Linked DNA regions of Homo sapiens. The protein of the gene in region 4 purifies or fractionates together with the protein of the main gene of each other region. This does not show direct contact. Each region holds a gene or a part of one and is shown on either strand. Other genes may lie near its edges. The genes, in order: ATP11C, CACNA2D1, BTBD10, ARRDC5, ERLIN2, DSG2 and KCTD20.

Region 1 (3,500 bases), on a different chromosome or scaffold from region 4:
TGGTTTAATTAGCGCTCCAGTGATTCTGATGCACACTCAAGTGTAAGAACTACTGAACTAGCGGTTTTGAAAATTGTATTTTAGCACCAGAAACCTTTCTTCACATGATCCAAGATAGAAGTTACGTTATTTATATAAACTTATAAAAGAGAGAGGTGTTGTGTGCATGCATGATGTTAAACAGAACTTGAAAATCAATTGAGAACCTTTGTTTCTGCTCCTATAATCCCATCATGTTATTTAAAAATTATATGAAAATGTTATACACCTTATCAATTCAACATAACTTTTTTTCCCCCAGAAATATAATAGGCTTTTGTAGTTCATTCACAGTTTTATCTATCTCTGTTTTATTATTTGTATTTTCATTCATTCTCATATTTCTGGTACATGGATTTCACCTGGATGTAGAAAACACATTTGCAATTTTGTTCTTTTTACAGATTTGTTGGGCGAATCAATATCTACAGTAATAGTCTTGAGGCTGTTGCCAGGTAAGTTTGCTGTTTCTTTAATTTGTCCTTTGGTTGGGGGGGGGGGTCTATTTTTCTGTTAAATCAACTAAAATAGCCAAATACCTTTCTATTATAGAAAGGAATATAGGCCGGGTGCGGTAGCTCACGCCTGTAATCCCAGCACTTTGGGAGGCTGAGGTGGGTGGATCACCTGAGGTCAGGAGTTTGAAGCCAGCCTGGCCAACGGGGTGAAACCCAATCTCTATTAAAAATACAAATTTAGCTGGGCGTGGTGGCACACATCTGTAATCCCAACTACTCAGGAGGCTGAGGCAGGAGAATCTCTTGAACCCGGGAGGCGAAGGTCGCAGTGAGCCAAGATTGAGCCATTGCACTGTACCCTGGGCAACAAGAGCAAGACTCCATCTCAAAAAAAAAAAAAAAAAAAAAAAAAGGAATATAAAGGTGAATAAGCAACTAACCTTGTGATTGGTAGAGTTGTGGTGATAGGGTCTCTGTGTTGTGGGGAGGGGGCTGTTAGAAGTAATGCTTATGGTTTCCAAAATAGCAGAGCTCCAGACATTTTGGATTATATTCCCAAACCTGTTCTAGCCATGTTATTTATTATCCTCGGTTGTGAAGTGGCTGACAACATTGGAATTATAACTGGAGAACAGTGGGAGAGTAATTGAGAAAGTAAGCAGTGGGTAAAATGCTGGAAGAACTACCTGGACTTACGTAAAATGAAAGGCTTCATTAAAACGAATTGTTTTATGTATACGAATTGTATGTATCAGCCTTCATACAATTTATCAAGCAGTTCATACAAAAAGGGATGCTTTCTTTCCTCTTCTATCATCATATTAATTACCGCAACTTTTCCACTTGGCCTTTACAGCCACACTCAAAAAGTTAAAGAAATACAGGGTCCCCAGTGATCCCCCAAAAGGAGGGTTTATTCTCTCCAAATATGTCAGTATATTTTTCCCACCTTGACGTTTGCATTCCCTGTCTTTTATTGATGGCTGTCTGCTTTTGTGTCTTGCGATCTGCTGCTCTGTTCTGTTCTCGTCTTGCTATCCATGATTCATAATCCTTTTATCCCCCCCCATGTATTTTTTTTGCCTATGTGTGTTGCTGGCTACTCCCGTACTGTGCTTCCATCTGTGCTGTACCCTCAAGTAACTTCAGAGTGAAGGACCTTTCAGCTTGTCCTGGGGAGTAAGCATATGGTATAAGTAGACAGATAACATTCTGAACCCCTTGGAGATAGGTGTGTGTCAGGGCAAAATCTGTCCCCAGAGTTGTTGATGCTATTGGCTTGTTTGGATAAGCTGTGTTCATTTTTTATTTAGGTCTTTGGGACCTGAAAATCTCTTGCTGAAAGGAGCTACGCTAAAAAATACCGAGAAGATATATGGTGAACAATTTTTAAGATACACCTATCAAAAAATATGCTTTGTAAAGGCTGTGAATAAATAGTGCATATTAAAAAGTAAACATGGCAGGTTTGCCATTTAATTTAAACCTACATTTAGGTGTTGGGAATTTATAACGTGGTAAACTAAGACGAAATATGACAAATACTATATATAATTAAAATTATCCTATAAATGATATACAACTGGTGAGTGGAAGAGGGCCTAGATTTCCCACTTTTATAGACTTAAAAATTCATAGAGCCAGCTGGGTGAGGAGTTGGTTGACAAGTTCTTAGTTTTTATTATATTCTGTAATTTCTTAGGAGTTGCTGTTTACACTGGAATGGAAACCAAAATGGCTTTGAACTACCAAGGGAAATCTCAGAAACGTTCTGCTGTTGAAAAGTTAGTATGCGCCACAATTTATTTAGTCATTATTGATTAAAATAGTTACTTTCTTGGTAATTCCAAGTAACAAGCATAACAAAAAACAACATCAATTATAATAGCAACTACAATTTTAAGCACTTGTTTATGTACCAGAAACTGTGCTCAATGATTTGTATGTCTGATTTGGTTTAGTCCTCTGAAGAACACTGTGAAGTAATTCATGTTAACCTCTCCACTTTACAGATGAGGAAATGGTCTTGGAGATGGTATGTGACTTACCTAAGCTCACATAGCTATTAAAGGGCAGAGTTTACTTGAACTGTAAATTCATTCCTTTTTGCTAGTGGAGTTAATGGTTTGGAGTCCTTTAGTTGCTATATGCAAGTTGGTTCTATAATATAGATAATAGTCTCCTGGCACCTATTGAAGCAGTGCCTCGTAGATCCTCAAGCCAGTTGCCACTGCTATAGACCTCACCCTGTATTTGGCATGGATAACCAGTATATCACTGGCACCCTTTCCATAGCTCCACTTTTAAACTGAAAGAACCTACACCGAGCTTGAGGATTTCACATTGCTACCGTGCCCTCTACCCCAAACATTTAGGATTCAGGGAAATGGAGACAAGATACTCTTTCTATAAGGGTTGAGTAAGTAATGGTGTGTGTATGTGTGCATGTGTGTACCTCTCCTGTCACTTTACAGGAACCTTAATAAGGTGTGTTCAGCTAGTCAGCCATTGCACTTGGGGGAGCATTGGTGGTCAATAAACAGTTCATGGCCAGCTTTTCCATTTTGCCACTTGAAAGTAATGCTGCAGCTATGATAACTGAGGTTAATACACAAAGGCTTGTGCTGTAGTTACGCGTCGTACACAGAAAAAGCTTTAGATGACTCAGTAGTTTAATTCATATCTGACTGATGTCTTTGGTTTTAAAATCCATGCTATCTTATTTTTCAGATCTATTAATGCTTTCCTGATTGTATATTTATTTATCTTACTGACCAAAGCTGCAGTATGCACTACTCTAAAGTATGTTTGGCAAAGTACCCCATACAATGATGAACCTTGGTATAACCAAAAGACTCAGAAAGAGCGAGAGACCTTGAAGGTAATTTGTTTTCTGCTGAAAATTGAAACTATTTTTTGTGACTGAGCCAACCTTCACTGAAATGCTGCTCAGGGAAACGGCACCTTTTGTTAGCTTCTGAATTTTCTCTCGATTACATGGTG
Region 2 (2,417 bases), on a different chromosome or scaffold from region 4:
TCATAACTGGTATTGACATTTTAGAAAACACCAAAGTGATTTAAAATATATGTGGGGAAAAAAACTTCTCACTCTAGTAACAATGTTTTAATCATGTTGTTTGTTAAATATTTAAAAGTTATTGTTCAATTTTTGCTAGACTATCTTAAATCATGATAGTGTTGGGAAGGGGGTATCAAAATATAAAATTGTTAGTTTGTGTATATAAACAATGCACATTAAAACAATTGAATTGCTTCCAGCATACAACAAACTACCTTAAAATTATGTTCAAAATCTATTAAATATATTTTCATGGCTAATGTCGAGTATATGTTTTCATCAATTACATTGTTATTGTATTAATCGCGGTTAAACTTGGCATCTCTTGGCAGGATCCTATTTAATTTCTGTTGCCATCAAAATATATTTATATGCATGAGTTTTGCTATAAACCTTTATTTTCTGCTATAAAGTTATATATTATGACAACCATAAATGCAATTACAAATTGGGTAAGAACAAGCTGAATAAAAGTTGTTCCCATGACTAATATTAGTCTTCATGCTTTTAGCATATTTTTTAAGACAGTAACACTCATCCCATCAAATTATTACATTACATTTAGTATTTTTCTGAGTTACATTGACAAGAACTTAAATTATAGCCTGTTATTAATATTGATTTCCAACGACTGAACAGTACAACAGATCAATAAAAAAGTTTATACACTGCTTTAACTAATTTTTGTTATACTCATGTGGCTTAGTGTAGTTAGTCACTAAAACAGAGTTCAAGTGAGCTTGGCAATGGTGTTGAGTAACAAGAAAGAATTTTGCATTAATGATTTCTTTTTATTTTCCTCATTTAAACAACCAGCATTACTGCCAAACACCAACCGTGGTCCATATTTGTAACAGGTTTTTAACATGACATAGTTAGCAAGTTTGATTGAAGAGATTTTTAGGTCCTGGGCCTATAAGATTTTAGTATGATCTTTTTTCATGTTTCTAATGCTTGAGGTGTTACTGCTTAACTTGGGAAAAAAAAAAACAAAAAACAGTGTTCCTGCCATTTGTAAGTTTTCCTATAATATTCCTTTTATTAACTTTAAAACTGGACTTATCGGGTTCAAATAGGCAGTATCCCTTTTAAGTGACCTTTGCAACCCAAGTGTTACTTGCTTATTTGATGCTCTCTTGTATTTTAAATCTCATTTAAATCTTTGTCTGTGACCAACAAAGCTTAAGATTTTGTCTTCATTTAAAACTCTGAATCTATTCCATTGATCATGTTAGACGTTCAAATGTTTAATGGTATAGTCTGACCTAGTGAAACAAAATGGATGTTGTTACTTTTTTTAAAGAATAGAATGAAATAACTATTTCACTTGCCCAAAATTTTAAATATTTTTTCATCTAAACTTGTATTGTTTCCCATAGCAGAATGTCAATATTCACAGTACATTTCTGTAAAGAGCAAACCAATATAATGTTTTGAGTGTTGAAAAAAATTCCAGATTTTTGAAGAATTAGACAACTCTTCATCTACCTTATTTCTAGTTCACACAGTTATCTCAAATTCCACTGAAACTAATGGGATACTGTCTTGTGTAGATGCCAGTTGAGTTTATAATGTGACCTAGTAAAGCTGTCTTTTTTGTTGTGTTGTATGAGTGTCGGATCATGCTTTTAGGAATACTTTTATTAAAATGGTGTGCATTCATGCAAAAGGCCAACTGGCTTTTGTGAACAATAGATCTTTTCTCCCCTTTATTTTGTTCTCTTGACACTTTTGTGAAAATTACCTAGCCTGATAAAAACATTTTGTAAAAATTTGTATAATACTGTTATAAAATATTTATAATCCCAGAAAATGTTGTGTTAAATCTTGTGCAAAAACAGTATATTCAGAATAAAAGTTTATCATTTAAAGTCACCACGCGGTTTGGGTTTTCTGCTTTTTAAAAGATCCAGTTGGAAGAGACAGATGGCTCTGTCATAAATAATTTTAAGAGAGAATTCTGGATTGTGGAAATAAAAGTTGGGATTAAATAGTGCTTTTACAATTACAAACCTCAACTCACACAAATACAGTCAATCCTTGAACAACATATGTTTGAACCACATGGATATACTTATATGTGGATTTTTTTCAACCAAATGCAGATTGAAAATACAGTATTTGCAAGATGGAAAACCCACATATACCAGGTGCCTACTTTCTGTATACTCAGATTCTGCGGGGCCACTTTCCAGACTTGACTTGGGTATGCATTGATTTTGATACACGTGGGCATCCTGAAACTGATCCCCCCCACGCACAGAGGGATGACTGTCAATTCACTCGCGATGCCTTTACTTAAGTCTAACCTTCTAACATGCCTTCTCCATCAAGGCACTTAGGAATGTACTTCATCAGACTTTGGACTTCTTTTA
Region 3 (3,500 bases), on a different chromosome or scaffold from region 4:
AAGACACAGATATGCATTATGTAATCCCATATTTACACACAAGAAAAACAAAAACAAAAAAACAGAAAAAAGAAAATTTAAAAATTAAATACACATACACACACACACTCATCCATGCTTGTATATGTTAAGATAAAATGTCTAGAAATATCACATAAAATTAAAACTAGTTGCCTCTGAGAAAATGCTGGAATAAGGAGACTTACTTTTTGTTGTATCCCTTCATACTACTTGAATTTTCTACATATTATTTTCAAAATGATAATATTGAGGAAGGTTTATTAAAAAGTGTTTGGAGGTGATAGTGCTATAGAAATTTTCTTCCTTGTTTAATTTTACTGCTTAAGTGTAGTTTTGTAAATTTTTTTGGATTGCTTAAATATAGTCACTACATATGCATTGATAGAATATGTTTCTGCCACATGTACCCCATTAGACTATAAGATCCTTGAGGGCAAGAACAAAGTATGATTCAGGTTTGTGTCCCCACAGCCTAGCACAATTTGTATGTAAGCTTTTACAAAATGTTAACTACATTAAGAAGAAAGAGGCTGGGTGCGGTGGCTCACACCTGTAATCCCAGCACTTTGGGAGGCCGAGGCAGGTGGATCACGAGGTCAGAAGTTCAAGACCAGCCTGATCAACATGGTGAAACCCCACTGGTACTAAAAATATAAAAATTAGCCAGGCGTGTTGGCGGGCACCTGTAATCCCAGCTACTCAGGAAGCTGAGGCAGAAGAATCGCTTGAACCTGGGAGGTGGAGGTTGCAGTGAGCCAAGATCGCGCCACTGCACTCCAGCCTGGGCAACAGAGCAAGACTCCATCTCAAAAACAAAAACAAAAAAAGAAGAAGAAAGAAACTGAAGGACATTTCACTTAATATAATTTACTAGTGCAGAGGAAATAAGAATTACAAAGATTTATAAGCAGTCTTTAACTTTTAGTTGTCTTAAAAGAATACTGTCATATACCTGTACTCATGTTTTAGTTATTGCAAAGAGCACCAATCATGTGACTCTCACTCTCAAATAAGCAAAAATTATAACAATTCAATTTCTAATGCTCTCAGGAAATACATATCAAGATAGTGGGGATAAAAGACAGAAAATATCACATCCCTGAAAACATTTTTCAAGCTATTACCAAACAAGCCCTAAGTTTCCCCAAAACATTCCTCAAAGATGTGCCTATTTAAATCTCACAGAAGCCCTTTCAATTGTTAAGGCTTGACCTTTTCTGATTTGTTACAGTTAAAACAAGACAAGCTTAGCTGAGAACTTTATTCAGGATATTTTTATAACCAATTGAATTGTAAGTATCTAATTTCACCATATAAAATTAAAGTGGCCAGGTATGGTGGCATGCACCTATAATCCCACCTACTTGGTAGGCTGAGACAGGAGGATTGCTTGAACCCAAGAGTTCAAGGCAAGCCTGGGTAACATAATGAGACCCCCAGGTCTAAAAATAAAAAAATAAATTAAATAAAAATTTTAAAATTAAAAAGATTTTTAAAAATAAAATAAAATTTATTTATTCTTTCATTCAAAATTTATTTATTGAGTACTTAAGCACCTTTCAGGCATTTTGATAACTGCTAGGGAGACTCTAACAAACAGATTTAATAAAACTGCATGGTATTTCCATTAAAAGTAGGATCTGTTGTTTATTTATTTATTTGTATTTAATTATTTATGTATTTAGAGACGGAGCTTTGCTCTTGTTACCCAGGCTGGGGTGCAATGATGCAATCTCAGCTCACTGCAACCTCTGCCTCCCGGGTTCAAGCAATTCTCCTTCCTCAGCCTCCCAAGTAGCTGGGATTACAGGCGTGTGCCACCACACCTGGCTAATTTTGTATTCTTTTTAGTAGAGACAGGGTTTCACCATGTTGTTCAGGCTGGTCTCGAACTCCTGACCTCAAGTGATCTGCCTGCCTTGGCCTCCCAAAGTGCTGGGATTATAGGCATGAGCCACTGCGCCCAGCCCTGTTGTCCACTTAAAGGGTGATCTCTAATTCACCAAGATGTTAAGACTTCCAAAGTCAGCTCAGTCAACCCTTAATGTTCCAGAGGTGATTTGGATATAAAATCTTTGTGCTAATTGATTTTATCACTTTTATAGAATTTCTATTCAAATTTTGCTGACTTCTTAATTAACACATTAACACTTCAATAAATGAAGTGTTATTCATTTGTTTCTTTCCCATCACAAACAGCTCAATAAATGTTTGAAAATCTTTCCATATTTTAAGCATTTACAAAGTACCTACATTACATGATTAGCATTGTTAAGTAACTAGACACTGTTTAGTTTATAGGCTACCTTCTTAAAACTCAAAAGGCATATTTTTTTAATATCCTAAAGAAATAACAATGTTTTAATTTTCTACTATGACCAAAAAGTGTTGACTTCAAAACCAGAAACACCTTAGTTGAAGCAAACCATCTTGACATAATATCAATTAATACAGGCAATGCTCCTGAAGCTGATGCCTAAATCAAAGGAGATTATGGTCAACTCCTAAGAAGCAACACCCTTTAAACAAAGTCAGACAATATTTTAAACAATATTTTTTCCTTCCATGATGCTTTATGTTTTTTCATATAACCTTTATTATGCTGTTCCATTTTGACCTATTCATTATTCCCCTTACCTTCCATTCCTTTCCGATTTTTGTCTATCAGCCATCAATTCAACAGGCTAGTAAAGGCTCTATTAAATATGATTCAAGTTCTAGACTGTAGCACTCACTGCTCAGCGCGACTTTCCATTATCACAACAGTGTGATAATGGAAATGTTCTACGTCTGCACTGTCCGAAAAGTTTAAGGAATCTAAAATTTGCCCTGAGACAAAACACTTGCTCACAAAGAAACATTTTACACATCTTTGTGTCTTGGTACTATAGGTAGCATTCCACTTTAATAAAATTAAAAATGTTGTTATATTCAAAGATCTTTGAATTAAGGTTCATTTCAATAATTGAAAGTCTGTGGTGCATGAATAGACAAACCAACCAATAGAAGAGAATTAAAGGCCCAGAAACAGAGCCCTAAAACATAAAGAACTTCAATATATGATGAAGTGATAGCTCAAGTCATCGAGAAAAGACAGACACTAATAAATGGTATTGGGACAACTGAATAAACATTCAGGAAAACATGAAACTGAATTCGTACCTCATACCACATACAAGGATATACTCCAAATGAAATCAACTATCTAAATGTAAAAACTGGAATCATACAAATACTAGAAAAATTATGGGTGATTTCACTGACAACCGGGAAGGAGAGAAAGCCTTTCCTATTTGCCTACGAAAAACACCACTACTTGCAAAAAGCACAGAAAAAAATAAAGTTTTAAAAACAAGTAATTTTTTTAAAAGGGCTAATTTCATAGTATATAAAGAGTTCCTTAAAGAAGGAAAGAAAAAGACAATTTCTCTTCTCCAAAACAGACAATGCACAAAGAAATGGGCAATCCTCAGAAAAAT
Region 4 (4,004 bases):
GGAGGCTGAGGCAGGAGAATCGCTTGAACCCAGGGGGCAGAGGTTGCAGTGAGCCGAGATCACGCCACTGCACTCCAGCCTGGGCAACAGAGTGAGATTCCACCTCAAAAAAAAAGAGAAATGTCAATCATGCAGGGAGTTGCTGCTTCCTGATGGTGTCGATGTTCAGATTAAGCACACACTGCCCTGATCAACTTCAGTGCGCACCAGATTTCAGGTCCTGGCCATATCTCTATGTTTTTTCCAATATAGACCAATATAAATGTAGAGTCTTTAAGATGAAAATGAGTGTGTATGCACCTGGGCACAGTGGCTCACAACTGTAATCCCAGCACTTTGGGAGGCCAAGGCAGGCGAATCATGTGAGGCCACAAGTTCGAGACCAGCCTGGCCAACATGGTGAAACCCCGTCTCTACTAAAAATACAAAAATTAGCTAGTTGCAGTGGCACTTGCCTGTAATCTCAGGTACTTGGGGGGCTGAGGTGGGAGAATCGCTGGAACCCAGGAGGCAGAGGTTGCAGTGAGCCGAGATCACACCATTGCACTCCAGTCTGGCTGACAGAGTGAGACCATCACAAAAAATAAAAATAAAATAAATAAAAATACCAAAAAAAAATTAGCAAAGCATGGTGATGGTGCATGCCTGTAATTCCAGCTACTCAGGAGGCTGAAGCAGGAGAATTGCTTGAACCCGGGAGGCAGATGTGGCAGTGAGCCGAGATCGCGCCACTACACTCCAGCCTGGGTGACAGAATGAGACTTTGTCTCAAAAAAAGAAAAAGCCCAGGTGCAGTGGCTCACGCCTGCAATCCCAGCACTTTGGGAGGCTGAGGTGGGTGGATCACGAGGTCAGGAGATCGAGACCATCCTGGCCAACACAGTGAAACTCTGTCTCTACCAAAAAATTAGCTGGGCATGCTGGCATGCACCCGTGGTCCCAGCTACTCAGGAGGCTGAGGCAGGAGAATTGCTTGAACCCATGAGGCGGAGGTTGCAGTGAGCCAAGATGGCACCCCTGCACTCCAGCCTGGGCTACAGGGTAAGACTCCATCTCAAAAAAAAAAAAAAAGAACCAGTGAGGACTACAGGTTTCCCAATCAACCACCCACCCTAAACAACAGTTTTGCCTCCCCTCCTGGCCACTGGGGTCCCCACTTCCCGGAACTCTGAGCTGAGTGATGTCATAGATGGATTACCTCACTAGGGCCAACGAACCGGGAATTTCAGGGACATGGGGGACAGAGAGGAATGTCTCTCTACCCCCCAACCCCCCATGTCTGTGGTGAAGTCGATCGAATTAGTGCTGCCCGAGGATAGAATCTACCTGGCTGGCTCCAGCATAAAAGGGCAGGTGATCTTAACCCTGAACAGCACCCTGGTGGACCCCATAGTGAAGGTGGAGCTCGTGGGAAGGGGTTACGTCGAATGGAGTGAAGAAGCCGGGGCATCCTGTGATTATAGCAGAAATGTTATTTGCAACAACAAGGCAGACTACGTGCATAAGACAAAGACATTCCCAGTGGAGGGTAAGGACGAGGCCAACAGCCACCCCTAGCCATGACAGGAACCTGGGTCTGGAAAATAAACACATCCGAGAGTCAATCAACAAAACTCTAGGGCTATCAGAAATAGGGAGTGGCCTGATTTCTCCCTAGGAGGGAGGCCATGAAGAACAATGACCATCAGATACACAAAACGCAAAAATAACAAGACATAAGGAGCTGATCGGAACCCCGATATTCAAAATGAAGGTTCAAAGTAGTCTCCTTGGAAAATGCTCAATCCAACAACTGCCTTTGAGAGGCCTCTGAGAAGTCTTATTCTTTTACAGATAAGTTTCACTCTGACAGCAAAACCCCAGGAGACAAAGTAGGCAGTCCTGCATTCATGGGGAGAGACAGTGGAGGTGGGCCAGGCACAGTGGTTCATACCTGTAATTCCAGCACTTTGAGAGGCCGAGGCAGGTGGATCACTTGAGGTCAGGAGTTTGAGACCAGCCTGGCCAATATAGCGAAACCCCATCTCTACCAAAAAATACCAAAAAATTAGCTGGGCGTGCTGGCACGTGCCTGTAATCTCAGCTACTTGGGAGGCTGAAGCAAGAGAATCACTTGAACTCGTGAAGGGGAGGTTCCAGTAAGCTGAGATCGCACCACAGCACGCCAGCCTGGGTGACGGAGCGAGATTCCCTCTCAAAAAAAGAAAGATAGTGGAGGTAGAAGAGCAAGGGAGACCTTCCAGAGAAGGAATAACTAGTCCCCAGTTCCACCAGGTCAGATCTGAAATCTGAACAAATGTCAGAGAGTCTGCTGAGTTGTCGGGGAAATTATATGTCCATTGCAAAATGTGTTTGTGGGGATATTCCCAGGTATTAAGCAGTCAAGCAGAACACGTGGCCAACACTTGGCTGAACAAAGTGTAATTTAATTTAATTTATTTCTGTATTTATTTATTTGTATCTTATTTATTTATTTATCTATTTTTTGAGACACAGTCTCGCCCTGCTTCCCAGGCTGGAGTGAAGTGGCACCATCTCGGCTCGCTGCAAGCTCCGCCTCCCGGGTTCAAACGATTCTCCTGCCTCAGCCTCCTGAGTGGCTGGGATTACAGGCACCCGCCACCATGCCCAGCAATTTTTGGTATTTTTAGTAGAGGCAGGGTTTCACCACGTTGGCCAGGCTGGTCTCGAACTCCTGACCTCGTGATTCGCCCACCTCGGCCTCCCAAAGTACTGGGATTACAGGCATGAGCCACCAGGCCTGGCTTATGTATTTATTTTTGAGACAGGGCCTCGCTCTGTTGCCCAGGCTAGAGGCCAGTGGTGTGATCAAAACTCACTGCAGCCCCAGCCTCTCTGGCATAAGCGATCCTCTCACCTCAGCCTCCTGAGTAGCTGAGACCACAGGCACATGGCACCATGCTTGGCTAATTTTTGTTTATTTTTTGTTTTCGTTTTTTTGAGACGGAGTTTTGCTCTTGCTGCCCAGGCTGGAGTGCAATGGCGCAATCTCGGCTCACCGCAACCTCCTGGGTTCAAACGACTGTCTCTTAAAAAAAGAACTAGCAATTTTTTTTTTTTTTGAGACTGAATCTCACTCGTTGCCCAGGCTGGAGTGCAGTGGCGTAATCTTGGCTCACTGCAACCTCCACCTCCTGGGTTCAACCGATTGTCCCGCCTCAGCCTCCCGAGTAGCTGGCACTACAGGCGTGTGCCACCACTCCCAGCTAATTTTGTATTTTTAGTAGAGACGGAGTTTCTCCATGTTGGTCAGGCTGGTCTTGAACTCCCGACCTCAGGTGATCCGCCCACCTTGGCCTCCCAAAGTGCTGGGATTACAGGCATGAGCCACCACACCTGGCCATTTTAGACTTTAAAAATTTAGATGAGATGGTCTGTTCCACCAGAGGAGTACTCTGCAAAGAGGGAACAACCAAGCACAGAACTGAGTGATAGGAGGGACTCCAGCCATGCAAATATCCTGGGGACAAATGTCAACTTACCAGACACTAATACTGAGCAATTATGTGACCTCTCTGGCTCTCAGTTAACCAATCTATAAAATGGGAGTAGGAAGAGGTCCTATTTCATAAGATTGTGTTAAGGACTTAATGATTTAATGGCACATAAAGCGCTTAGAATAATGCCAGGTATACAGTAAATGCTTAAAAATTGCTATTTCTGGCCAGGCACAGTGGCTCACACGTGTTATCCCAGCACTTTGGGAGGCCAAGGTGGGCAGATCACCAGAGGACAAGAGTTCAAGACCAGCCTGGCCAACATGGTGAAACCCCGTCTCTACTAAAAATACAAAAAATACAGCTGCTCAAGAAGCTGAGGCAGAAGAATGGCGTGAACCCGGGAGGCGGAGCTTGCGGTGAGCCGAGATCACGCCACTGCACTCCAGCCTGGGCAACAAAGCGAGACTCCGTCTCAAAAAAAAAAAAAAAAAAAAAAGAAAGAAACAGAAAAAAAAGACTGCTGGCCGGGCGCGGTGGCTCATG
Region 5 (3,500 bases), on a different chromosome or scaffold from region 4:
GGATGCTGGATTGGACAGAGACTTACAAGAAACATAAACAGAAGCAAGGGTGAGCATTGATTAGAACCTGGTTCAAAATTAACAGCTATAACAGATACGACAGAAACTATATGAGTCCACTCAGGCTGCCATGACAGAGGACTACACACCAAGGGACTAAAATAATAGATATTTTCTCACCATTCTGAAGGCCCAAAGTCCAAGATCCGGGTAACAGCAGGGGTAGTTTTGGTGAGACCTCTCTTTCTGGCTTGCAGGTGACCACCTTTTTGTCACATCCTCACAAGGCCTTTCCTCTGTATGTGCAAGAAGAGAGAAAAAGGTCTTTGGTGGATACCAGACCTTTTGGATTACAGCCCACCCTTATGACCTGTTTAACCTTAATTACCTTCTTAAAGGTCTAATCTCCAAATACAGTCACATTGGGGGTTAGGGCTTCAACATATGAATCTGGGGGCGAGGCATACACAGGTCAGTCCATAACACAAACTGTTGGGGAAATCTGAATAAGGACTGGGTATTAGGTGATATTACAGAATTATTGCTAATTTTCTTAGGCTTGGGAATGATACCATGAGTGTGTAGGAGAATGATTATTCTTAAGACAGTGCTCACCAAAGTAAAGGAGTAAAGTATCCTAACTGCAGCTTACTTTGAAATGTTCAGAAAAAAAAAAGGTCAATAAATAAGGTAAAATGTTATCAGTGTTGAATTCAGGTATCTGGATATGGATGTTAGTTATACTACTCTTTCGGCTTCTCTATGTTTGAAATCTTTTTATAATAAATATTTGAGGGCAAAGGGAGTGTGACACCAAAGTAATAGTGAAGACAGTTTAAGAAACATTGATCATAACATTCCACAGTAACCTTCTAAGTTCTGAAAACTTCACCTTGACCCTCCTTAGTCTTTTCCGTGCAACTGATTAATCAAAAGGCATTGCTGATTCCAAAGATATGAGTTACTCTTTCGTACTGGTCCCCAAAAGTCTCATTCATGTCTTTGTAGAGATGTTCCTAGGCAGTGTGATTTCTCAGGAGAGTATGTTGTTGCCATGAGCCCTGCAGAACCTCCCACTTGGAGATCCAAGCTGCCTTCCAACTTCCCGTGAACTCTTCTACTCCTTTTCTGCCAAGCCCCACATCTTACGCCATCACCCTGGGGGACTGCACCATATTCTAAGGCTTCCCAGTGACTTCTTGTCCATTCTCCCTCCAATAGTGGTGGTGTGATGATCTACTTTGACAGAATTGAAGTGGTGAACTTCCTGGTCCCGAACGCAGGTACGTCTTAACAGTTTATTCCCACCACCAGCTCACTTTCCCCAGCATGCCACTCCCGTGTCTGTTGTAGCACCTTGGAAAAGGAGAGCTGCCGTGTCTGAGGGCATTTTGAGTCTTGCCTTTTCTTATGCCAAGCCCTCTCCTTCCCTCTCAGTGTATGATATAGTGAAGAACTATACTGCTGACTATGACAAGGCCCTCATCTTCAACAAGATCCACCACGAACTGAACCAGTTCTGCAGTGTGCACACGCTTCAAGAGGTCTACATTGAGCTGTTTGGTAAGAAAGTCTCTCCTGAGCATGCCGTGCTTAAGCAGGGTTCCTGGAACCCCGCGTCTCTCCACTGCCTAAAGCCTGGCTGCCTGCAGGGTGTGATGGTCACTTATGGACAGGAAATGTTAAAGAATCTTGTGCTCAGGAGCTGGTCACAAAGGAGTTCATGGAGAATGCTGATAGCTATGCAACAAGATCCTTAGAGGGCTGGAGCTTTGGGCACAGGGACCATAGTGGAGTAGAGTATTCACTTCTGGCCTCAATCAGAGGCTGGAGTGGAAATGTGTTCCCACTGTTCCTAAACTATCATTCTATAATGAAGACAAGGTCCATTCTAGAAGAACCTTAGAGATTGTCCAGACCAGCATCCTCATTTTAAGCTGAGGGTACTGTGACCCAAAGCAAGAAAGTCACAGAGCCAGATGCCAATTAGTAGTGGGGCTGAAACAGGAGCCTTCCTCTCCTGGCTCTTCAGCATTCTTCTCACCATGCAACACTGAATGGAGGGCCCCCAGGAATGGGTGATGAAAAAGACATGATTCATAGTTAATTCTAGAAGTGAGATGAGAACCATAGCTCCTTCCAGTTCTCAGAACCTTTGTGATTATTATTTTTTTACTCTGTACCTGTAGCAACGAATAGAAAAACACTTTAAACAAAAAGATTCCACGTGCCTAAGTAGATATGTTTTGTCCTTTTTACCTTTTTCAAAGTAAAGGCAACCTGACTTAGCAGCAAAGGAAGGACACAGTTGGGTAACTGTTATAACTTGTTTGCAGTCAAGTATTCTGTTTAAACTCACTGCCAGAAATTCTCTAATAGCCAATGCCAAAAGTAAATGAATTTTTAACCAATAGTATAACTGTTCTTGACACTAGGACTGGAAAATGATTTTTCCCAGGAATCTTCATAAAAGGGACCCTGAGCAAGAACATTTTTCATAGCAGACAGGAGGACTCATCCACATCGCCAGCAATCATAATTAAGCAAACCGCCTTTTGCACCATTTAAGATTTAGGAAATCATCCAAATTACTTTTAATGTTTCTGCAGTAGAAAATGAATCTAAATTCATTTTATAGGGTTTGTAGTCTTTTATCTGTTTTGGATTCACTGTGCTTTTAAGAAAAAGTTGGTAAATTTGCCGTTGATTTTTCTTTTTAACCTCAAACTAATAGAATTTTATAAAATATTAATTTTCTCTAGCCATTGTCTTAGGACTTGTGACATTACATGAACATTTCAAAGCACTGAAAAAAGACAAAGGATCCCTAATGTCCCTGAAGAGGAAATTAAAATACAAAGTTGTTTTTCATTAGCAAACTTCTTACTTTCTTACAGCTAAACTTGGTAGCTTAGTGAAGTACAGCTGCTTGTATGGAGGAGCTGGGGAAATATATTTGCTTTGAAACTTTTTTATTTTTACATCTCAGTCTTGCTAGCAAGCACTACTTGGCTTAGAATCTGTCATATCCATAAAGGAGGAGCTCATGTCTCTAGTCCTGGCCCTTCAACTCAGAAGGTTCTTCTATACTTTCCTTCTCTCAGGACTCTTATAGCCCAGACTTTAAACATGAAGCTGCATAATTTTCATCACTTCTTACTCTGCCGCATCCTCTTTGCCCATGTTATTAAAGTATTATCTAATACTTTGAAGTTTACCTGAAGAACCTCTTTGTGTGTACTTAGTAATACAACTTTTTTTCCTGTCCCAACACCTTTTAATACAGTTGAATGGATAAAAACATGGATACAAACACATGGATATAGTTATCACTGAAGCAGTGTGACATAAAATAATACCTATGTATACAACACTCCTCTGTAAATAGCAAATGTAAAGTAAAAGATACACAACAGATCATTTTGTTTATCTCACTATCATTTATTAATCTATAATGTATCCCTCCTATGTATCCATGCAAGGAAGCAATACTAGCTGCC
Region 6 (3,166 bases), on a different chromosome or scaffold from region 4:
AGAGTTCTCCGAACCTTTTCTAGTTCCAGGGCAGCCCAATTTTGTGAACCTTTCTTTGCTTAAGTAAACTGTTAGATTTAATTTGTTTAAAGCTCTTCTTTTAACATTTTACACCCAAGTTCTAACCACCCCTTTGAGCTGCTCATTCCAGTTACTCCAAAGCATGCATGAGATACACATGTTAACAGACTAATGTTTGTTTTTCTCTTGTTAATCTGTGTTTTGTTACAGAGCCCCAGCTGGGGACCTAGAAGAAAATTTGTTTTTCTTCTCTTATAGCAGCAACTCTGATCTTTTCCCTTCTAAACTATAACAAGCAATTAAAACAGCCTCTCAAACATTGGTAGAATGATTTCATCTCTTTGGGTTAGATATACTAGCCTTCTTCTGCCAGACCCAACAGATTTCTCCAGTGTTACTCTGGGCAGAGAGCAACCTTCACTTCCTTAGGAACAAGGTTGCCAGAGTTGGACAATGAAAATGCCAAGTACCCCGATAAATTTGAATTTTAGATAACCGACAACTTTTTTTATTGCAAGCAGATCTAATTAAATAACAAAGTCCAAGAAACACCTGCCTTTAAGGCACTCTCCCTAACAAACTGAGTTATATTCCTTGTAAAATATAATAGAGAAATAAAAATCTATGGGGAAAGGGTCACTCTAAAGATACTTTTTATTTAAATATTTTATGATGATACATATACAAATATAATCTTCCAAAAAACAAATGTAAAACTAATACAAATCACTTTTTCAGGAACAAAGAAAATCATTTAGAAAATGTGATTATGCTAAAAGAGGCAGGTTAGGTTTCCAAGGCTGCTCAAGGTGGAAGCTTAAGACCAACTTTTGTTTGAGTACACAAGTGATATTTACATTTTCATATACTAGTGATATACCTGTTGCATACTTGGCAAAATAAAACTGATAGTAAGTCTATAATAATAAAAGAAACAACAATTACTAAGTAAACAATTCTAGATGATGGAAGAGTAACCTCCATTTAAGCTACAGACTTAGATGTCTAAAAATATGTGTCCTGATCTGTACAGTTAGTGGGAGCACACTATATAAATCCTTTGCATGACACCATTCAACAATATTTTTTAAAATCTACAAAATTTTAAAGTTTCACTTCCCTAGCAAAATATCTTCAGTCAAGAAATTAGTCTTTGAAAATTATGAAAATTGTTGTGGGAAATATTTATACAAATTATTACTGATAATGCACATATATTTTGAAACATTGTTTCTAGAAGCAATAAAATATAACCTATTTAGGAGATAACCCAAATGATTTGTAAAAAAATTAACTTGTAGAAAAGGGAAGGATGTTGTGTAAAATCAAGTCAATTATTTGAGGTTTTTATAATATTGAGTACTTATGTACTAAGTCACACCCAGCCAGTCAATAACTGAGAAATCAAAATAAAATAATAATTTCAAAGAATTACATAAATACAGGGCCTTTTGAGATTTTTGGCAATTGTAAACAAAAACGAATGGTTTTTACAATTCAGTGTAATTCTACGAATATTTATTTGGCACCCATGTTAGGCACTGAGGCTACACAGCAGTGAAATAGGCCTAGTTGTTCTCAACTAGAGAACATAGTTGGTTAATGTAGCTGCACTGAATTGTAGCTGTTTAGAAGATAATATACCCTGAGGCTTTTTAAAGTATACTATTACTATAAGAAGTAAAATTATTTTATACTTATAAATTTTGTTTTGGATTATTCAACTGAATTTGGAGTGTTCAGAATTTTCATGGCGGTTGAGACAAGGAAGAGGTATAATGCTATTTTTTTTTCCTTTTCTTTTTTTTTTTGAGACGGAATCTCACTCTGTTGCCCAGACTGGAGTGCAATGGTGCGATCTCGGCTCACTGCAACCTCCGCCTCCCGGGTTCAAGTGATTCTCCTGCCTCAGCCTCCCAAGTAGCTGGGATTACAGGCGCCCACCATCACGCCCAGCTAATTTTTGTATTTTTAGTAGAGACGGGGTTTCACCAGGTTGGCCTGGCTGATCTCAAACTCCTGACCACAGTTGATCCACCCGCCTCGGCCTCCCAAAGTGCTGGGATTACAGGCGTTAGCCACCACCCCTGGCCAGTATAATGCTATTTTTAAGACTATACAGTATGTACGTGCACACACACACACTGTCATGTGCACAGAAACATACAATGTGTATTCTTATCATCAATGGTCCAATTTAATGAATCACACAGATTGAAAGGGTTCAAGTCTTAAAGAAGTTATGAGCACCATAGCTGGTGCTCAGACTGTGCATGTATCTTTGGATCAATGAGTTGTTGAAAGTCTGCTGGGTGCAGTAAAGTACAGAATACAGAACATCAATGTTTAATGTTAATACGGTAGGCAAAGAGACCCAGTCAGTTTCCTGGGTTGCTTTACTGGACGGCTGATGAACTAGGTACTCTGTTCACTTGGTAAATTCTCAGAAGCCAGATTGACTCTCTATGTATCTTGTTTTATCAGGATTGTTTGCATAGCTTGCTAAAAGGCACCTAAGCAGCAGCATCATCTCTATGTCTTCAGTAAATTGTGGAACATTTCTAAAATACTCCTGGAAGCAGAGACAGTGTGGTCCTTTGCATATCAGTGACTGAGAAAAATTTTAAGATCAATGTGTATGTGTCTCTGTGTGTCTGTAAGGCTCATGAAAAATCAGGTACATTGGAAACATGAAATTAGTCACTGCTAATTAAACTCTGGGTCAGTTTGTGGCTGACTGCTGTTTAGGAGTAAGAATGCTGTACAGTGCTATGCTTGGTAACTCTGGTGGAAGATGTGGTTATGGTAGAATTAGAATGACCAGATTCCTCTAAACCAAAATCTGGCAGAGGGCCAGGGACTCCAGCTCCAGACACCGTGGTGTTCCTAGCCGTCATAGAATTTTCAGTGGGAATCTGGTAACTGGATTGCAGAGTGGAAGCAGGTGCTAGAACTCTTTCTGTCACTGTCACATTCTGTCCTACTGCTATATTAGGCATGGCCAGAGTAGGCTGCACACCTGAGCTGGGGGCAAGGAAGCTCTCTCTTTCCCTCACCATGACGTAAGGTACATCTTGAAGATGCTGAGTGCCTTCCAGAGGATTCGATCCACCCCCATGAGGCTGTATTACTCTTTCAGTGACCA
Region 7 (3,500 bases), on a different chromosome or scaffold from region 4:
TGATTGGTGCATTTATAATCCTTTAGCTAGACACAGAGCACTGATTGGTGCGTTTACAATCCTTTAGCTAGGCAGAAAAGTTCTCCAATTGCGTTTACAATCCTTTAGGCAGAAAAGTTCTCCAAGTCCCCACTCGACCCAGGAAGTCCAGCTGGCTTCACCTCTCATCTTCACATTGTCATCCCTCTGTTTATGTGTTCTACTCGCCCCATTTTGAGGACTCCAGACATATTGGATTAGGGCCCACCTTAATGACTTCGTTTAAAAGGCACTGTCTCCAAATACAGGCACATTCTGAGGACTAGGGGTTAGGGCTTCACATATGAATTTTGAGGGAGACACAGTTCAGCCCCGACAATCTGTTTAAGAAGTTATGTGTTGGTGGCCGGGCGCGGTGGCTCACGCCTGTAATCCCAGCACTTTGGGAGGCTGAGGCGGGCGGATCACAAGGTCAGGAGATCGAGACCATCATGGCTAACATGGTGAAACTCCGTCTGTACTAAAAATATAAAAAATTAGCTGGGCGTGGTTGCAGGCGCCTGTAGTCCCAGCTACTTGGGAGGCTGAGGCAGGAGAATGGCGTGAACCCAGGAGGCGGAGCTTGCAGTGAGCCGAGATTGCGCCACTGCACTCCAGCCTGGGCAACAGAGTGAGACTCCGTCCTAAAAAAAAAAAAAAAAAAAAAAAAAAAGAAGTTATGTATTGGGGCCGGGTGCAATGGCTCCTGCGTGTAATCCCAACACTTTGGGAGGTGGAGGCAGGTGGATCATCTGAGGTCAGGAGTTTGAGACCAGCGTGGCCAACATGACGAAACCCTGTCTCTACTAAAAATACAAAAATTAGCTGGGCACGATGGCACGTGCTTGTAATCCCAACTACTCGGGAGGCTGAGGTAGGAGAATCGCTTGAACCTGGGAGGCAGAGGTTGCAGTGAGCTGAGATTGTGCCACTGCACTCCAGCCTGGGTGACAGAGTGAGACTCTGTCTCAAAAAAAAAAAAAAGAAAGGTTATGTGTTGGGTAATCTGAATGCTCGTTTCCTTCATCACTATGTCCTACGCCATGAGGCCCAGGCAGCATTCTTTTTCACGTGACTGGCTTTACCTGTTCTTCAGAACCATGCTTACTTTTGTATACCCTGAGAAGCATATTATGCCTCTGTATAAATCATTGTGTTATGTTATATTTAAGATTATCCTGTTAGCCTACTGAATAATGTGCTTGAAAAACTATTCCATACATTAACTTAAATTCCTAATTCATCTATTAAGCTCATTTCTTCTTTAATCTAGATGGAAGAATGTCAAACTATTTTATGTGATAATATATTGTTTTCTGATTAAACTTTAAAAATTTTCTCTTAAACTGTTTCAAGCAGTTTTAAAAATTTATTTTATCTTATTTTACTTTTTAAGAGTTAGAAGTCTTGCTGTGTTGCCCAGGCTGAAGCATAGTAGCTATTCACAGTCTTGATCCCACTACTGATCAGCACAGGAGTTTTGACTTGCCTGTTTCCAGCCTGGGTCAGTTCTCCCCTCCTTAGGCATCCTGGTGGATCCCTGCTCCTGGGAGGTCACCATTGATGCTAAATTTGGTGCAGACACCTGATTGACATAGCGCACTACAGCCCAGAACTTCTGGGCTCAAGTGATCCTCCCACCTCAGCCTCCTAAGTAGCTGGGGCTACAATAGTGTGCCATGGAACCTAGTTACAAGCAGTTTTTAAGAAACCATTCCAATGATTCCAATGTTTTCTTGAGAAGGTATCTGTTTTTAGAGATACATTTTCATTTTTCCTTATTTTAAAGATAATAACACATTCATTTTAGAGACTTTAGAATATTCAGTAAGACAATAACTTTTTAAAAGAAAAGTCACGTGATTCTACAGTTAAGGGAGAATAATCTTTTCCATCTTTTTTCTGTGGATACATTTATTGTTTCAACTTGCCTTTTAAAAATCTAATATATCAATACTATTTCACACTATTTCAGTTATTTTCTTTTCTGAAATAAGGTCTTGCTCTGTCACCCAGGATGAGGTGTAGTGGCAAGATTTCAGCTCACTGCAGCTTTGACCTCCGGGCTTAAGCAGTCCTCCCACGTCAGCCTTGCCCAAGTAGTTGGGACTACAGGTATGTGCCACCACACCCAGCTAATTTTTTTATTTTTTGTAGAAACGAGGTCTCACTGTGTTGTCCAGTTTTGTCTTGAACTCCTGGGCTCAAGCGATCCTCCTGCCTTGGCCTCCCAAAGTGTTAGGATTACAGGCATAAACTGCTGCACCTGGCCCTATTTTAGTTATTTTCAAACAGATTTCTATTTATTTATTTAGAGACAGAGTCTCACTCTGTCACCCAGGCAGTGCAGTAGTGCAGTCTCAGCTCACTGCAACCTCCTCCTCCCCGGTTCAAGTGCTTTTCATGCCTCAGCCTCCTGAGTAGCTGGAATTACAGGTACACACCACCATGCCCAGCTAATTTTTGTATTTTTAGTAGAGACAGGGTTTCGCCATGTTGACCGGGCTGGTCTCAAACTCCTGACTTCAAGTGATCTGCCCACCTTGGCCTCCCAAAGTGCTGGGATTACAGGTGTGAGTCAATGTGCCTGGCCTATTTTTTTAATTGGTGAATCATATGAATTGATTTTTGAATGTTAAACCAATCTTTGCCATAATGTATTATCCTTTTTTATGTGGCTGAATTTGATTTTCTCATAATTTGTTTAGGATTTTTGTGATTATGTTCATGAGAAAGTTTGATATAATTTCTTCGTTAAAAGTGTGGGAAAATTTGCTAGTCAAGCCATTGGATTCTGGAAAAGTTTTAATTATCAATTAAATTTCTTTACTAGATATAGGACTTTGCAGATTTTCTAATTTTTCTAAGTCAGTTTCAATAAATTATAGAATATTCATTTAATCTGCAAATTCTAATTTACTGGCATAAATTGTACAAAATAACTGCTCATCTTTTTAGTCTCATGGGATGTGTACTGATAGTCTTTTTTCATCTGTGATCATTGTAGTGTGCATCTTCATTTTCTTTTTTTTTTTTTTTTTTTTAGATGAAGTCTCACTCTGTTGCCCAAGCTGCAGTGCAATGTCGCTATCTTGGCTTACTGCAACCTCCGCTTCCCGAAGCGATTCTACTGCCCCAGCCTCCTGAGTAGCTGGGACTACAGGTGTACACCATGACACCTGGCTAATTTTTGTATTTTTAGTAGAGATGGGGTTTCACTATGTTGGCCAGGCTGGTCTTGAACTCCTGACCTCGTGATCCGCCCGCGTCAGTCTCCCGAAGTGCTGGGATTACAGGCGTGAGCCACCGCGCCCAGCCTTATTTTCTTTTTAAAACAACTTCACTGAGAGAGAATTCACATAACATACAATTCACTCATATAAAGTATAGAGTTGAGTGGTTTAGTATATTCAAAGTTGTGCAGACATTACCACCATTATTTCTTTCTTGATCAGTTTTTAGGGCTTATCAGTTTTCTTAGC

The links.
Region 1: the proteins of ARRDC5 (region 4) and ATP11C purify together in Homo sapiens (affinity purification with mass spectrometry; one large-scale study listed by BioGRID and IntAct). This does not show direct contact.
Region 2: the proteins of ARRDC5 (region 4) and CACNA2D1 purify together in Homo sapiens (affinity purification with mass spectrometry; one large-scale study listed by BioGRID and IntAct). This does not show direct contact.
Region 3: the proteins of ARRDC5 (region 4) and BTBD10 purify together in Homo sapiens (affinity purification with mass spectrometry; one large-scale study listed by BioGRID and IntAct). This does not show direct contact.
Region 5: the proteins of ARRDC5 (region 4) and ERLIN2 purify together in Homo sapiens (affinity purification with mass spectrometry; one large-scale study listed by BioGRID and IntAct). This does not show direct contact.
Region 6: the proteins of ARRDC5 (region 4) and DSG2 purify together in Homo sapiens (affinity purification with mass spectrometry; one large-scale study listed by BioGRID and IntAct). This does not show direct contact.
Region 7: the proteins of ARRDC5 (region 4) and KCTD20 purify together in Homo sapiens (affinity purification with mass spectrometry; one large-scale study listed by BioGRID and IntAct). This does not show direct contact.

The regions. Positions count from the first base shown.
Region 1 is NC_000023.11:139,797,054-139,800,553, reverse strand, and holds part of ATP11C (phospholipid-transporting ATPase IG), read left to right. Parts: intron 1-443; coding exon 444-494; intron 495-1,810; coding exon 1,811-1,875; intron 1,876-2,199; coding exon 2,200-2,281; intron 2,282-3,227; coding exon 3,228-3,378; intron 3,379-3,500. UniProt on the Homo sapiens protein: Catalytic component of a P4-ATPase flippase complex which catalyzes the hydrolysis of ATP coupled to the transport of aminophospholipids, phosphatidylserines (PS) and phosphatidylethanolamines (PE), from the outer to the inner leaflet of the plasma membrane.
Region 2 is NC_000007.14:81,945,944-81,948,360, reverse strand, and holds the end of CACNA2D1 (voltage-dependent calcium channel subunit alpha-2/delta-1 isoform 1 preproprotein), read left to right. Parts: 3' UTR 1-1,917; downstream 1,918-2,417. UniProt on the Homo sapiens protein: The alpha-2/delta subunit of voltage-dependent calcium channels regulates calcium current density and activation/inactivation kinetics of the calcium channel. Plays an important role in excitation-contraction coupling.
Region 3 is NC_000011.10:13,453,223-13,456,722, forward strand, and holds part of BTBD10 (BTB/POZ domain-containing protein 10), read right to left. Parts: intron 1-3,500. UniProt on the Homo sapiens protein: Plays a major role as an activator of AKT family members by inhibiting PPP2CA-mediated dephosphorylation, thereby keeping AKTs activated. Plays a role in preventing motor neuronal death and accelerating the growth of pancreatic beta cells.
Region 4 is NC_000019.10:4,900,097-4,904,100, reverse strand, and holds the start of ARRDC5 (arrestin domain-containing protein 5), read left to right. Parts: upstream 1-1,204; 5' UTR 1,205-1,275; coding exon 1,276-1,528; intron 1,529-4,004. UniProt on the Homo sapiens protein: Plays an essential role in spermatogenesis. May be involved in the anchoring of the sperm head to the tail during spermatogenesis by affecting SEC22A-mediated SUN5 and NDC1 transport and localization.
Region 5 is NC_000008.11:37,743,134-37,746,633, forward strand, and holds part of ERLIN2 (erlin-2), read left to right. Parts: intron 1-1,221; coding exon 1,222-1,283; intron 1,284-1,437; coding exon 1,438-1,563; intron 1,564-2,435; coding exon of another isoform or gene 2,436-2,470; exon of another isoform or gene 2,471-3,417; intron 3,418-3,420; exon of another isoform or gene 3,421-3,500. UniProt on the Homo sapiens protein: Component of the ERLIN1/ERLIN2 complex which mediates the endoplasmic reticulum-associated degradation (ERAD) of inositol 1,4,5-trisphosphate receptors (IP3Rs) such as ITPR1.
Region 6 is NC_000018.10:31,546,343-31,549,508, reverse strand, and holds the end of DSG2 (desmoglein-2 preproprotein), read right to left. Parts: coding exon 2,766-3,166; 3' UTR 501-2,765; downstream 1-500.
Region 7 is NC_000006.12:36,449,500-36,452,999, forward strand, and holds part of KCTD20 (BTB/POZ domain-containing protein KCTD20), read left to right. Parts: intron 1-2,015; exon of another isoform or gene 2,016-2,133; intron 2,134-3,500. UniProt on the Homo sapiens protein: Promotes the phosphorylation of AKT family members.